3 separate regions of the Homo sapiens genome follow, and all the other regions are linked to region 2. The links come from fine-mapping of genetic effects on gene expression. A gene starts in region 2. Each other region holds a variant in brackets. All regions are shown on one strand. Distances are from middle to middle.

Region 1 (4,243 bases), 90 kb before region 2:
AGGGCTAGGGGCAAGGTAAAGCATTGTCGCATCAACCGGGACGGCCGGCACTTTGTGCTGGGGACCTCCGCCTATTTTGAGAGTCTGGTGGAGCTCGTCAGTTACTACGAGAAGCATTCACTCTACCGAAAGATGAGACTGCGCTACCCCGTGACCCCCGAGCTCCTGGAGCGCTACAATATGGTAGGTGGTGGACTCCCTTGTGATTTGGTGGGATTTCTTGTCTGAGGTTGTAACTCATCTGTTCATGAATTCAGCAAACCTCTGAGTATTCACCATGTATCTGATACTGCTGTAGGTCCTGGGGATACAAATTGAGCACAACAAAGACCCTGCCGTTGTGCTGCTTATAGTGTAGTGTTGGGGAGATGCAACAAATGACATTTAAAATATCCATAGCATGTGCCAGATGGTGATGAGTGCTATGGAGAAAAACACTGGGCAGGTGGATAAGAGGATACAGAGTGATGGGGAAGGGGTTGAAGTTTTCAGAGGGTGGTCTAGGAAGATCTCACTGAAAAGGAATGAGCCATGTGGGTATGTTCTGGAGGAAGAGAGGATAGCATGCGCAAAGGTCCTGAGGTAGAAGCCTGCCTGGAGGCACCAAGAGGAAGTCAGCATGGCCGGAATCAAGCCAGCCCAGGTGGGGGTAGAGCTAAATAAGGATGAGGGTTCACAGGTGACTTATCATGCAGGGGCTCATAGGCCATTGTAAGGCCCTGGCTTTTTCTCTGAGTCATTGGAGAGTTCTGGGTGCAGGAGAGACCTGATGTGGTTACTTTGTCTCCATTCCTACCACATAGATCATTAATTTATTGAAGAGAGATTTATGGCATCCCGATCATGTGCCAAGGACTGTTCTAGATACTAGGAGTACTGTGGAACAAAATCTGCTTTGGGAAATTTAGGTTCTGGAGAGGAGAGACAGATAATATACACAATTAAGATGTTTTCAGGTAGCATGAAATATAATAAAGCAAAGAAAACAGGATAGTGTGAAAAGGGGTGGACACTACCTTAGGCTGTGGGAGTGGAGATCAGAGAAGGCCACCTTAAAAGGGGAGAAATGTGAGCCGAAACATGGAAGATAGCAGTGAATGGGATCTGGGGAGAAGTGAATGAAGGGGTGACTCTAGGTACAGGAGTGGCCACATCACAAGCCCTAAGGTGACATGAGGAACAGAAAGAAGAGTTAGAGAGGAACAGAGAGGTGGTGGGGGTGGATCTTGTCAGTGGTGTGCTAGTAAATGTTCAAACAGCTCTCAGCGGGGTAGGGGGAAGGCACTGGTTTGTAGCATTTGCCAGTTTCCATGGTGTAAATACTTCCATGGAGGTCAGTTTCAAGTTGTTGATGTGCTGTCGTTGAACCTGGAACGTGGAGTCAGGAAGTGATGTACACAGTGGGCTTTTGTGAGCCGGGAGGTCACTCCAGCACACCATCGCATCTTAGGATTTGTGCTTTTACAAAGGAACGCAGTGCCTGGCACGCAGCAGGCCAGGACAGGGCCTCTCTGATTTTGGGTTAGTTTCCAAGTCTGGGGACCTTCTTTATAGCTTCTTCCTGTGTCTACTCATGGGCCAAAAGAAAATTCTATGAGGTTTCAACTCCTCTATCAAAGGATAGGTAACCATAAGGAAGCCTAGAACCCTTGTTATATGTAAGGGCTATTCCAGGAGCATGGATTATTCCATTTCTTTCTTTCTTTTTTTTTCCAGGAAAGAGATATAAACTCCCTCTACGACGTCAGCAGAATGTATGTGGATCCCAGTGAAATCAATCCGTCCATGGTACGGTGCCGAACCTCCAATTCACATGATTTTGGAGTCACGAGGCTGATGTGGATTCCATCTTGTTCCCATGGCAGTTATAACAGGGCAAGGGAAGACTTTGGAAAACCTGGCCAAAATAATTTTTTTTTTTTTTTGAGAAGAAAGGATGATTGATAATATCAAGCCTAGTTTCAGGGAAAATGTTAATAGAATTCCATCCAAATGCAACAGTGTTTTGCTAAAATTCTGAGGTTTGACGAACCACCTTTGGGCCAAATGGCTTCTAATGAAAAGTCTTTCAAATGTTTTTGGCTCGCTGACAGAGCCTGTGGTGTTTATAAATTCCATTTGGTTCACTGACCTCCTTGCAGTGCAAATGCT[A/G]TCTCATATTCCCACCCTGACTCTGTTGTGTAATTTCATGCAGGTAGGGATGGATTTTACTTTCAGCCCTCGGCTCCTCCTTGCCATGCTTTCATCTCAAATTTAGTTTGAGCCGGCAGAGGAAGAACCACAGCGAATTTTCTGTTTGGGGGCCATGTGGCACACAATTAGTGTACAACGCTCACTTAGGAAGGGGCCCTGCTTGTGGGCTCTGTTGAAATCCAGAGATGACTTTCTTTTTCAAAAATTTATAATCCATGGCCAATGCAGATCTGTTTCAGAAAGAAATGAAATCTTGAAAAGTTGTGGGCAAATTGAGCTGTGTGTGAAATGCATTAAGAGACCTTAGTAGCAAAAACTTTTGTTAGTAGTGAAGGATGTTTTGGCGATGAGAACAGTCACCTCTCTAACTGATGACTTTTCCTTCCTGTGGCCTTGGAGACTGGCTGGTCCTTATATCCACCCTTGAAGCAGGATACGCAAGTAGAGGCTGCTCTGTTTGCAGGTGGGGGAGAGAAAGGCAAGGGTACTGCTTAGCCTCTGGCCTCCAGCTGCAGATCCCTGTGGCAGAGCTCCTAGAACCCACATTGCTTCTTATGAAACATCATGCACTATGGCACTAACTCACATTGATGGATCCAGTTCTGGGCTGAGCCACTTAAAACAGCTGGTCGATGTGGGGCAAATTACTTTCTCTCTCTGCATCTCAGTTTTCTCATCTGCAAAATGGGCATACTCATATAACTACTTACCTGTTATGGTTGCTTAAGGATTAAAGGAGATACCTTAAGGCTTGGAATAATGCTTTAGCGATACTATAGTTAGCACTTAAGAAGTGCAAGCTGTTGTCAGTTTTATCATTATACACATGATCTCATTTAGTAGTCTTAACAACCCTGTGAAATATATAAAAATTTAATTCCCATTTCACAGACGGGGGAACTGAGGATCAGAGAGACTCAAACTTATATCATTATTCAAGGGCAGAGCAATGATTTGAACCTACATATCTGACTCTGTAGCCTGTGTTCTGAGGAAAAATTTTACTAGGTTCCCTGTGAAATTCCTGTTCCCATTTCCTTTGGGTGGGAGGAGAAGGAAGCTGCTCATTTAAACAGGTTTGACAACGTCAGAGCTTTTCCCACTAACATTTGCTTGCCGTGTGGGTGTTCATTTATGCCCGCCAGGCAGAAAGCATGAAAGCAAATTCATTGAAGAAAATTTCTAACCAAGGAAGTTCTATCTTATTTAGTTCTGTGAACAGAGACCACCTTTTGATGAATTTCATGGAGGAGAAGCTCAGTTACTCTTGCAAAATGTCAGGGTCCTGCAGGAGTGTAGATAGGGGACTGCTGACCTACAAAAACAGAGCAATGAGGCCCTCAGGACAGGCAGGAAGAATGGGGTTGCCCTTGAGCTTCTGGGAGGCTTGCTGAGCACCGGCACTGTGATGACAGTCTTGGCTTAATCTAAAAGGCATGTCCTTTCTTTGTTGAGGAAATTGAGCAATATTGTGTCACTACAATATAGGGTCACTCCCACCCTAACCCTAAGCCTAACCCTAACCCCAGCGCTAAACCCTAGCCCCAAACCCTAACTCCTAACCCCTAACCCTTAACCCCAACCCAGGTACCCTTGGCTCTGACTAGGCCAGTTCTCCTTCACTCCCTGGTGGCTTTTTGGGGCCTTCGATCCTTTGCAATGCCAGTCCCTCTCCAGCAGATGACTTTGTAACCTTGGCCTGAAGCCTCCTGCTCCCCAATGAGAAGAACCAAATGGTACCTGGGAACGCAGCCGCCTCCCTCCCCTCCTGTCCCTGGCCTGACCTTTTCCTTCTTGTTTTCCCTGAAAGCCTCAGAGAACCGTGAAAGCTCTGTATGACTACAAAGCCAAGCGAAGCGATGAGCTGAGCTTCTGCCGTGGTGCCCTCATCCACAATGTCTCCAAGGAGCCCGGGGGCTGGTAAGGCTGAGTGGAGGCTGGGCTGCTCGGCAGGTGGGCTTGACTTGTCCCTTCTTGGTGATAAGACTCAGGTGCTGGCCAAGTCTGACCCCCTTTGTCATCCTGGGCTGGCTTTGACCTCTTGTGTTAA
Region 2 (4,243 bases):
GTTAAGACTTTGTGGGACTGTTGGGAAGGCATGATTGGTTTTGAAATGTGAGGGCATGAGATTTGGGAGGGGCCAGGGGCGGAATGATATGGTTTGGCTGTGTCTCCACCCAAATCTCACCTTGAATTGTAGATCCCATAATTACCACGTGTCCTGGGAGGGACCCAGTGGGAGGTAACTGAATCACAGGGGTGGGTTTTTCCCATGCCGTTCTCTTGATAGTGAATAAGTCTCAAAAGATCTGATGGTTTTATAAAGGGGAGTTCCCCTACACAAGCTCTCTTGCCTGCCACCATATAAGACGTAAGATGTGACTTTGCTCCTCTTTTGCCTTCTGGCATGATTATGAGGCTTCCCCAGCCATGTGGAACTGTGAGTCCATCAAACCTCTTAACTTTATAAATTACCCAGTCTTGGGTATGTTTTTATTAGCAGCATGAGAATGGATTAATACAGGTAGTTTAAAGGTTTAGCATTTAAGCCTCAGGACAATCTTCCGAAGTTGTTACTAGTATTATCATCAGCTTTCAGAAATGAGGAAAATAGATCAGAGGTTAGGAACCTTGCCCACAAATTATGCAGGTCATAAGGGGTTGGGCAGGGTTCAGGACTTGAAGCCGGGTCTGTATGACTCTTAACCACTACATGTAATGCCGCACAATAAGGCTGGGACAATACAGATTCGCTTAGGTCATTATCTTATCACTGTGAAAGGAAAATAAATCTTGGGGTCCCAAGATCACTAAGCTAAAGGGAAAAGTCAAGCTGAGAACTGCTTAGGGCAAACCTGCCTCCCATTCTATTCATGTATCTCTGCTCACTAAAATAAAGGCATATCTGATTGCTTCCTTTGGAGAGGCTAATCAAACTCAAAATAATGCAACCATTTGTCTCTTACCTACCTATGACCTGGAAGCCCCCTCCCCGTTTCGAGTTGTCCCGCCTTTCCAGACCGAAAAACATGTTCATCTTACATCTGTTCTTGTCTCATGTCTCCCTAAAATGTAGAAAACGAAACTGGGCTCTGACCACATTAAGAATACATCGTCAGGACCGCCTGAGGCTGTGTCATGGGTACATGTCTTCAACCTTGGCAAAATAAACTTTCTAAATGAACTGAGACCCGTCTCAGATTTTCAGGGCTCACTCCACCTCCACAATTTCTGTCACATCTGATTCATCTGGTATTATGACTAGCCTATAAGGTTTTGTTTAAACCTACTTACCTTTTCCCAACAAATACATGCAGTTTAAATGGGAACCTGTCACTGCCACTTTTAAGTGGCAAACCAGAACCAAGTGATAAAGAGGAGGTAATCGTTCTCCCAAAGTGTGCAGAAAATCAAAGACAGGAATCAAGTATAGCCAGCCACCTGTGGAAAGTTCGGAGCTTGGGGCCCCGATGTCCTTAAAAACAAAAAATGCGGAGGGCCAGTGTTTGAGGCCTTGGCGACATTCTAGAAAGCCAAGCTGCGCCCGGTCCCCTGGGATCAGGAAGACATCTGAAAGGGGATACTCCTTCCCGCCACCCTGCTCAGTCATTCACCACCGTCCCCCACCCCCGGGACCGCCACCTGTCGCGTTCCAGGCCGAGGCGGTCCAGGGTCCCCGCGGAAGGGCGGCGGCCCCCCAACCCCAGCCCAGGCCCACTCACAGCTGCAGGAACAAGGGCGCGGCAGACGGCTACAGCAGGCAGAGAGGCCCAGGCCTCCTAGCTACCCATCACCACAGCTGGGGCGCCGAAGCCGTCGGACCTGCCTCCTGGAGCCACTTCCGGGCCTCTCTAGGAAGCCTGGAGGTCTCGGAGTCTCTATGACGCGCAGGTGTCTCCTTCACCTTCACCGGCGTTGAGGTAGCAGGAGGTTCGCTTCATGAATTCCCCCACGTTCTCTGGCTGTGCGTTCCGCCGTGGCGGGAACCCTTTTAGGGTCACGTCTTCCCCCACGTCCCCTGTCTGTGCGTTCCGCCGTGGTGGGAACCCTGTTAGGGCCACGTCAACTGCTCTTCCCACCTCCAGTGTCTGCTTTTAGACTTTCACCTCCATCTTTGTTTATCCCCAAGGCCAAGACCAGTGCCTGATAAATAGGCACTCAGGTCAGCATTGCTTGGGTGGATGGATGATGGAAAAGGCTCTATAGGGAGGCAGAATATTCACTCTCCATGTATCTCTTTAAGTTTCTATTATCTCTGAGTTTCCATATCTATGTGTGCCCATAGGTTTTCCTGTGTCCCTAATTTTCCTTATTTCTCTTTGTTCTGGTCGCCAAGCAGGCAGTGATGCCAAGACTAATCTTTGTTGCTGAAGGAACCAAGGAATGCAGAAAGGAAAGTTGGCATCCTCACTCAGAGGTCTCCTTTTGAGGCCCATCTTTTGTCTCCTCATCATGAGTGTGGTTCTGTGGATGGTTGCAGACTGTACACGTGTATGGACATGCATCCTGGAATGGACCCCTGGCTGGGGAGGATTTCATTTTAGTGTCTTGGAGGATGGAAGTTTTGACTTCATGTGGTGCTCTTGCCGATAGATCTGGTACCAAAGGCAGACTCAGAGAGGTTCATATCAATTGCCTGATTTACTGCTCAGTTTTCACTAAGCACACACAGTCACAAGGACAAAGCTCAAGTCCTAGGATATAAAAATTAATGAAGCCCAGGTGAAGAAATCAAGAAGTGCCAGTCCCTGGCACTGGCCTCTCTCATAGGATGCTCTGGCTTTCCTGCCTGTCTTGTCCTCACCTATTAGGCAGGCATAAGTCACAGGAGACTTCTTGTGCTAAGCAGTCTTAAAGAACAGCTTTGCAGTGGCTGCTTAGGATACATAAAAATTAGAAGAGAAGAGGAAGGGTATTCAGGGGGCTGAGAGACCAGCTATATGCTCTTGAGGCCAGCAGCTAAGGAAGAAAAGACCCACTGAGGATGCAGTAAAGAAGACAGACTTCCTTTGGGGAATTACAGGATCCTCTGAGGGATACCCAGATTTAGAGTGTGTGGATAAACATGAGAAATGGTGAATTTAAATGTTAGTATTCTTGTGCCACCGAGGACTCTTTTAAAATATAATCAGGCGTGTTTTAAAGGAAAATTACAAACTCTATAATTGCTTCCTTAGCTTCCATCATAATTTAGTGAGTTGATTTTATAAAGGTCTGACCAAGAGATCTAAGACAGAAATGACTGGAGAAAGAAATTAACTTCAATGTGAGTTTGTATATCAGTGTTTGTTTAGTATTGTCTTCCCCCAATAATATGTCCAGGCAGTGGATGCATCTCAGAAAGATCAGTTTGCTGTCACAATTACTCACAGGTGTGCAGTATTTTATTTCTCACTCCGATCACAGTCCAATTCAGTCTGCAGGGAAGGGGAAGAGTGCTGTGCTCCACATAATCACTCAGGGACCCAGGCTTCCCCCATTTGTTATGCCATCATGTTCAACTCTTGGCTGCCAAGGTCACTACAGAAGAGGAAGTAAGAGCTTGGCTTTCCCCAACACTTTCACTTAAAGTCTCCTGCATCCCCTTGAAATTCTTCAATCTCTTCACAGCACTTAGCTCATCTGAAATTATCTTGCATGTTGCTATAATGAAAGCTCCGTGAGTGCAGAGACCTGCTTGATTGATTGGTGTATCTCCACTACCTACTATAGTGTCTGGCATAGAGACAGAATTTTTTTTTTTTTTTTTTTTTTTTTTTTACTGGTGAATGAATCAGCAAATGAATATATGTCACATTTCTGGTTGTCCCTGTTCAAAATCCCAGGCTTGCAAACGACACCTTCTTTTGGCCCAGCTTGGATCAGAAATCACCTCTACCATTGTCAGCTGTGGCAAAAGGACACAAGAACTGCTATAAACTGTGGTCATTTCTAAAGAACGGAAATTATTGTGAGCTTGGTAGGCACATGAGAACTTTGCTATCCAAAAGTGTGGATCAGTAACATCAACATCACCTGAGAGCTTATTAGAAATGTTGGGTCTTGGATCCCATTCTAGGCTTAATAAATACAAATCTGTATTCAGCAAAATCCCTAGGTAATTCCTATGTATAGTAAAGGCTGATAAGCACTGCCCTAAAAGTGCTATGACTTAGTAGTAGTAGCACTACAACTCTCTGAGGTGGGTAAGAGAAACCTTGTAATAGTTCCACACTGCATCTGGAAATCAGGTGAGTTTAAGTGACTTACCCAAGGTCACAGAACTAGTAAATGACAGACCTGTGATTAAAAGCCAAGGCTTCTGGCCGGGT
Region 3 (4,243 bases), 23 kb before region 2:
GGAAATGGTATGGAGGCACTAGGAACTCTGGTGGGAGGGTAAATTTGTACAGCCACTTTGGAAGCGGATGAACAGTATGGCTGACTCAAGCCCCACCTATAATCCCATCTTCCTCCCTCATTTCCAGTAGAAGAAATTGGAGTCGGCTTTCAGGAAGGCTTTTTAAAAGAAATAGACCCAGCTGGCATTTCCCTTTGGCCTTGTTTATCTTCCCTTTTCTTCTTGCCTGTAATAATGCCTGAGGGTGCAGCCACCTTCTCAGAATCACGCGGTGAGAATCATTAGAATGAGGATCCAACAGAGCCGAAAGATGGGGCCAGTCCCTGATGTTACCACTGAGCTGCGTCATCCCACGTATGCCTACTTCCGGACCCCTTGTTACATGAAAACAACAAACTACTGTTCAAGGCACTGTTAATAATTTTTAAATGCGCAGCTGAATGCATGTCTGATACAGTAGTCCCTATTAAAATTCTAATTCCACTTCTGGATGTCTATCCTAGCAGCTCATTTCAACGTGGATGTAAGGAGATATATATATATAAGAGCATCCATGCCTGTGCTGTCTGATAAGGTGGCAAGCTAGAAACAAACGGAATAAACACCAATAAGGAAATGCCTTAATCTACCATGGTACATTTACACTATGGAATGCTGTTCAGCTGTTAAGAACTAGGTATATCTACCTTATCTGATGGCCATAAATAAGACATATTCTATGCCATCGTTGTTTGAGAAAGTAGCAATCATCTAGTGTTCTTACAAAGGCAAGCTCTAGGCCAGGCGCCACCCAGCTCACATACTGAGCCTCCTTCCTTGGCGCCAGTTGTGCCCTGAATGTGTGTCCAGGGTGGGGAATGGAAAGGCAGTCCAGGCGTTAGATCTACCAACTCAGATTTCACCTTTGCTGGTAGATGAGTCATGCCTATGCCTGGGAGACTGGCAGGGAAGTTGGGGAGGTACATGAAGCATAATCAGAGGTAGGTGGACAGCAGAAGTTAGGAAAGTTCTGATGTGGCACACAGGACTCTATCAACAGCTGGGGAACGACAGGTTTCTTGGGCAGCCTGGGGTAGGGGTGGGAGCTGGCAGTGCCACCTGTTCCTAACCTCTGTTCTTAATAGGGCTGGCCGAGGCAAAGCCATGTTATTTGTTTACTAGGTTTGAGGCAGTAAAATTACTGAAGTAATAACCACAACATTGTGAAGGACAATTGAAGGAGGTTGTTTGAGGCTGTTATCGACTCTATCACTAACACAATGACGGCTAAGTATAAGGAGAATTACCTATACTCAGGCATTTTAGATGGCTTTTTAGGTTTGGAGAAAATGAAAAGCAAAACATATATGATGCATTTCACAAATGCTTTTGGACTGATGTTGCTATACTTACTGGAAAATCAAGTTCCATTTGAATTCACCGAAATGTTTTCCTTTTTGCTTCTTGAATACTGTAGTGTTCTGTGATATAGTTAAATTTGCTGCCTTCGCAAGGTTGATACTGGAATTCTTTCTAGTGTATTATGCTGCATAATTTGTACCAATATTGACTAAATATTTATTCTTTTACATGTTCAATGGCTACTTGCAGAGGAATTTATTCAAATTTATTATAGTTTGCTACTGATATTAGCTTTATTTTGCATGTGCTGTAGAGGAATTCGTTCAGATATATTTTATTTTGTGTCTTTCCTAGTTACCAGTGTTCGGTGAACCACCGAACCAGTGTTTGCTTTCATACGACCGCGTGTCAGATCATCTACTCTTCCACCAGTAAATCTATTTTGCTGAGGGATACACAAAAGAAGCACTGAAAAACTATACATAAGATTTTCTTTAGGTAATTTTTTATTAATATTTCAATGTTGGTAGAATACTGCTACATACCCAGAATTCAGGATTTTCTACTATATTCTATTCTAGTACAAAATGAGATTTTTTCCCCTCAAAATCAGTTCACAATAACTTCTAAT[A/G]CATCTGTTATGAAAAATGCTTAATTCTTCATATAACTATGTGTCTTATATATAGGGTGATCGTACAATTTATTATACAAAATGGGACATACCTGAGAGTGAAAGGAAGCACTATTAAAAATTAAGGTGGGACTACAGGCATGAAACCAGAACTGTCTTAGGCCAACTAGGACATATGCTTATCATCTTTATATACCCGGTGACCTCCTATGTCAGCAAATAAAGAATATATACTAATATCAATAGATCACCATGCTGTACTATTGAGTGAGAAACCGTAGTAGCAGAAGGAACTGTGAGGTGGGAGACAGTAGTATGGGGAAAGACATGAACACCACAGCCCTGTTTTCTATACAAATATATACATATATGAAATTTGGGGACATTAGTAAAAGGGGTCTTTGGCCTTATCCGTAATATTTTAACATTATATAAGAAAAATACATCTATGCATTATTTGTATAGTTACTTTTAAATCTAAGTTACACAGAAGCACTCTGAATGTGTAGAAATAAAAGCTTGATGATTTTGGGTTGGCTTTCTAGCCCCACAATTTAAAACCAACACACACCGCTATGGGTGTTTATAGACATCAAAATTTAGAGCAGAGAGGCATAGATGCCTACTTGTTCTCTAGCATGGTGTAATTGACTCTGCAATCTCAAGAAAAGAAAAACTCATTTTCAGTTTAGAGCTCAAAACGTGACTGAATTGAGTAATTGAAAACCATGGTATCAAGCCTGTAATCCCAGCACTTTGGGAGGCCGAGGTGGGTGGATCACCTGAGCTCAGGAGTTCGATACCATCACGGCTGACATGGTGAAACCCCATCTCTACTAAAAATACAAAAATTAGCTGAGCGTGGTGGCGGGCACCTGTAATCCCACCTACTTGGGAGGCTGAGGCAGGAGAATTACTCGAACCTGGGAGGCGGAGGTTGCAGTGAGCCAAGATTGTGCCACTGCACTCCAGCCTGGGCCACAAGACCAAAACTCCGTCTGAAACAGACAAACAAACAAAAAAAACATGGTAGGCTGGGCACGGTGGCTCATTCCTGTAATCTCACCACTTTGGGAGACTGAGGAAGGAGGATCACCTAAGGCCAGGAGTTTGAGACCAGCCTGGGCAAAACGGTGAGACCCTGTCTCTACAAAAGACGACAGAAAAATTAGCTAGGTGTGCTGGTGCACCTGTGGTTCTAGCTACTTAGGAGGATCACCTGAGCCCAGGAGGGCACTGCAGCAGTGAGCTGTGTCCACAGTGCTACACTTCAGCCTGGTCGACAGAGTGACACCATGTCTCAAAAGAAAAAAAGAAAAGCCACGGTAAATAAACTAATACCTGTTATATGGCAGGAAATCAATGAAACATTTTCACTGAACCATCTCTACCCGCATATGCAGTTGTTTTTTTCAAACTACAGTCTTATGTTGCTAATTAGTTACTGAACATTCCATTTGAACGTCTCAAACTCCACTAGCATGTCTTGCATCTCTTCCTGTAGACACCAGCTTCCCCTCCAAACCCTTCCATCTTTCCCAGCAGAAACACTATTAATTAAGGATCCATGTGCATAGTTCTTGTACAGGTTACAAAAGGCCTCTGTGCCATTAAATCCATACAAGTTCCCCCAAGAGATAAGCAGGGAATGTTTTATCTCCACTTTACAGATGAGAGGCATTTGCTCAAAGTCACATTGCAAATAAGAGATGGCTCCAGGACAGGCATAAGGAAGTGCAAGCAAATGCATGAGTCCCTTGAGCACTGAAGGGCTATAATCACCCACTACCAAATATTTCTTTTCCACTTGGGCCCAAACTTAAGGTATTTGCTGTGCTCAGAGACACTTCCACTGTGAAGTGCTTTGTAAAAAGTTCACCCTTCTTTGGGAGAATTTAAACATCTAAGGGCACCTCTACAGGCTGGACTTTGCATTTTCATTACTTCGAAAGATTTTTATTAGGTCTGTGCTCCACGCCCAGAATAGTGTAAGACTGCAGGGGAGGCAAAGAGCCATCAGCAGCGAATAATACTTGGGCTCTGCTCTCAAGATACTGATTTAGAGGAGAGACTAGGACATGTGCAATGTGACCAATATCAGTATTTGATTAGGTACACAAACAAGTCTTCCTGGAGGATGTCCTCTGGGCTATTAAGTATGGCTCTAACATCCATGCTCCTCACAAAATACATGGAATTCCAGTAGATTAACAGCACCCCCCGCCCACACACCTCAGCTCTACGTAATACATACTCACATGACAAAATAAT

What was found. PIP is the estimated chance that this variant, and not a neighbour inherited with it, causes the effect.
Region 1: its variant is the best candidate, but not a certain one, in a credible set for the expression of SDR42E1 in gastroesophageal junction (GTEx, PIP 0.64).
Region 3: its variant is the best candidate, but not a certain one, in a credible set for the expression of SDR42E1 in whole blood (TOPMed, PIP 0.50).

The regions. Positions count from the first base shown.
Region 1 is chr16:81,919,482-81,923,724 of GRCh38, forward strand. PLCG2 (phospholipase C gamma 2) reads left to right here. Exons shown (of 33, transcript NM_002661.5): 20 at 3-183; 21 at 1,717-1,788; 22 at 4,004-4,113. Among named protein-coding and RNA genes, the nearest start is that of SDR42E1, 90 kb to the right of the region's middle. The variant A/G (reference allele first, on the strand shown) is at 2,152.
Region 2 is chr16:82,009,733-82,013,975 of GRCh38, forward strand. It overlaps SDR42E1 (short chain dehydrogenase/reductase family 42E, member 1), which reads right to left and starts at 1,738. Exons shown (of 3, transcript NM_145168.3): 1 at 1,655-1,738. RefSeq lists a silencer at 1,513-1,662 and enhancers at 1,903-1,992, 2,003-2,082.
Region 3 is chr16:81,987,026-81,991,268 of GRCh38, forward strand. It overlaps SDR42E1 (short chain dehydrogenase/reductase family 42E, member 1), which reads right to left. Exons shown (of 3, transcript NM_145168.3): 3 at 1,830-4,243. Among named protein-coding and RNA genes, the nearest start is that of SDR42E1, 22 kb to the right of the region's middle. The variant A/G (reference allele first, on the strand shown) is at 1,973.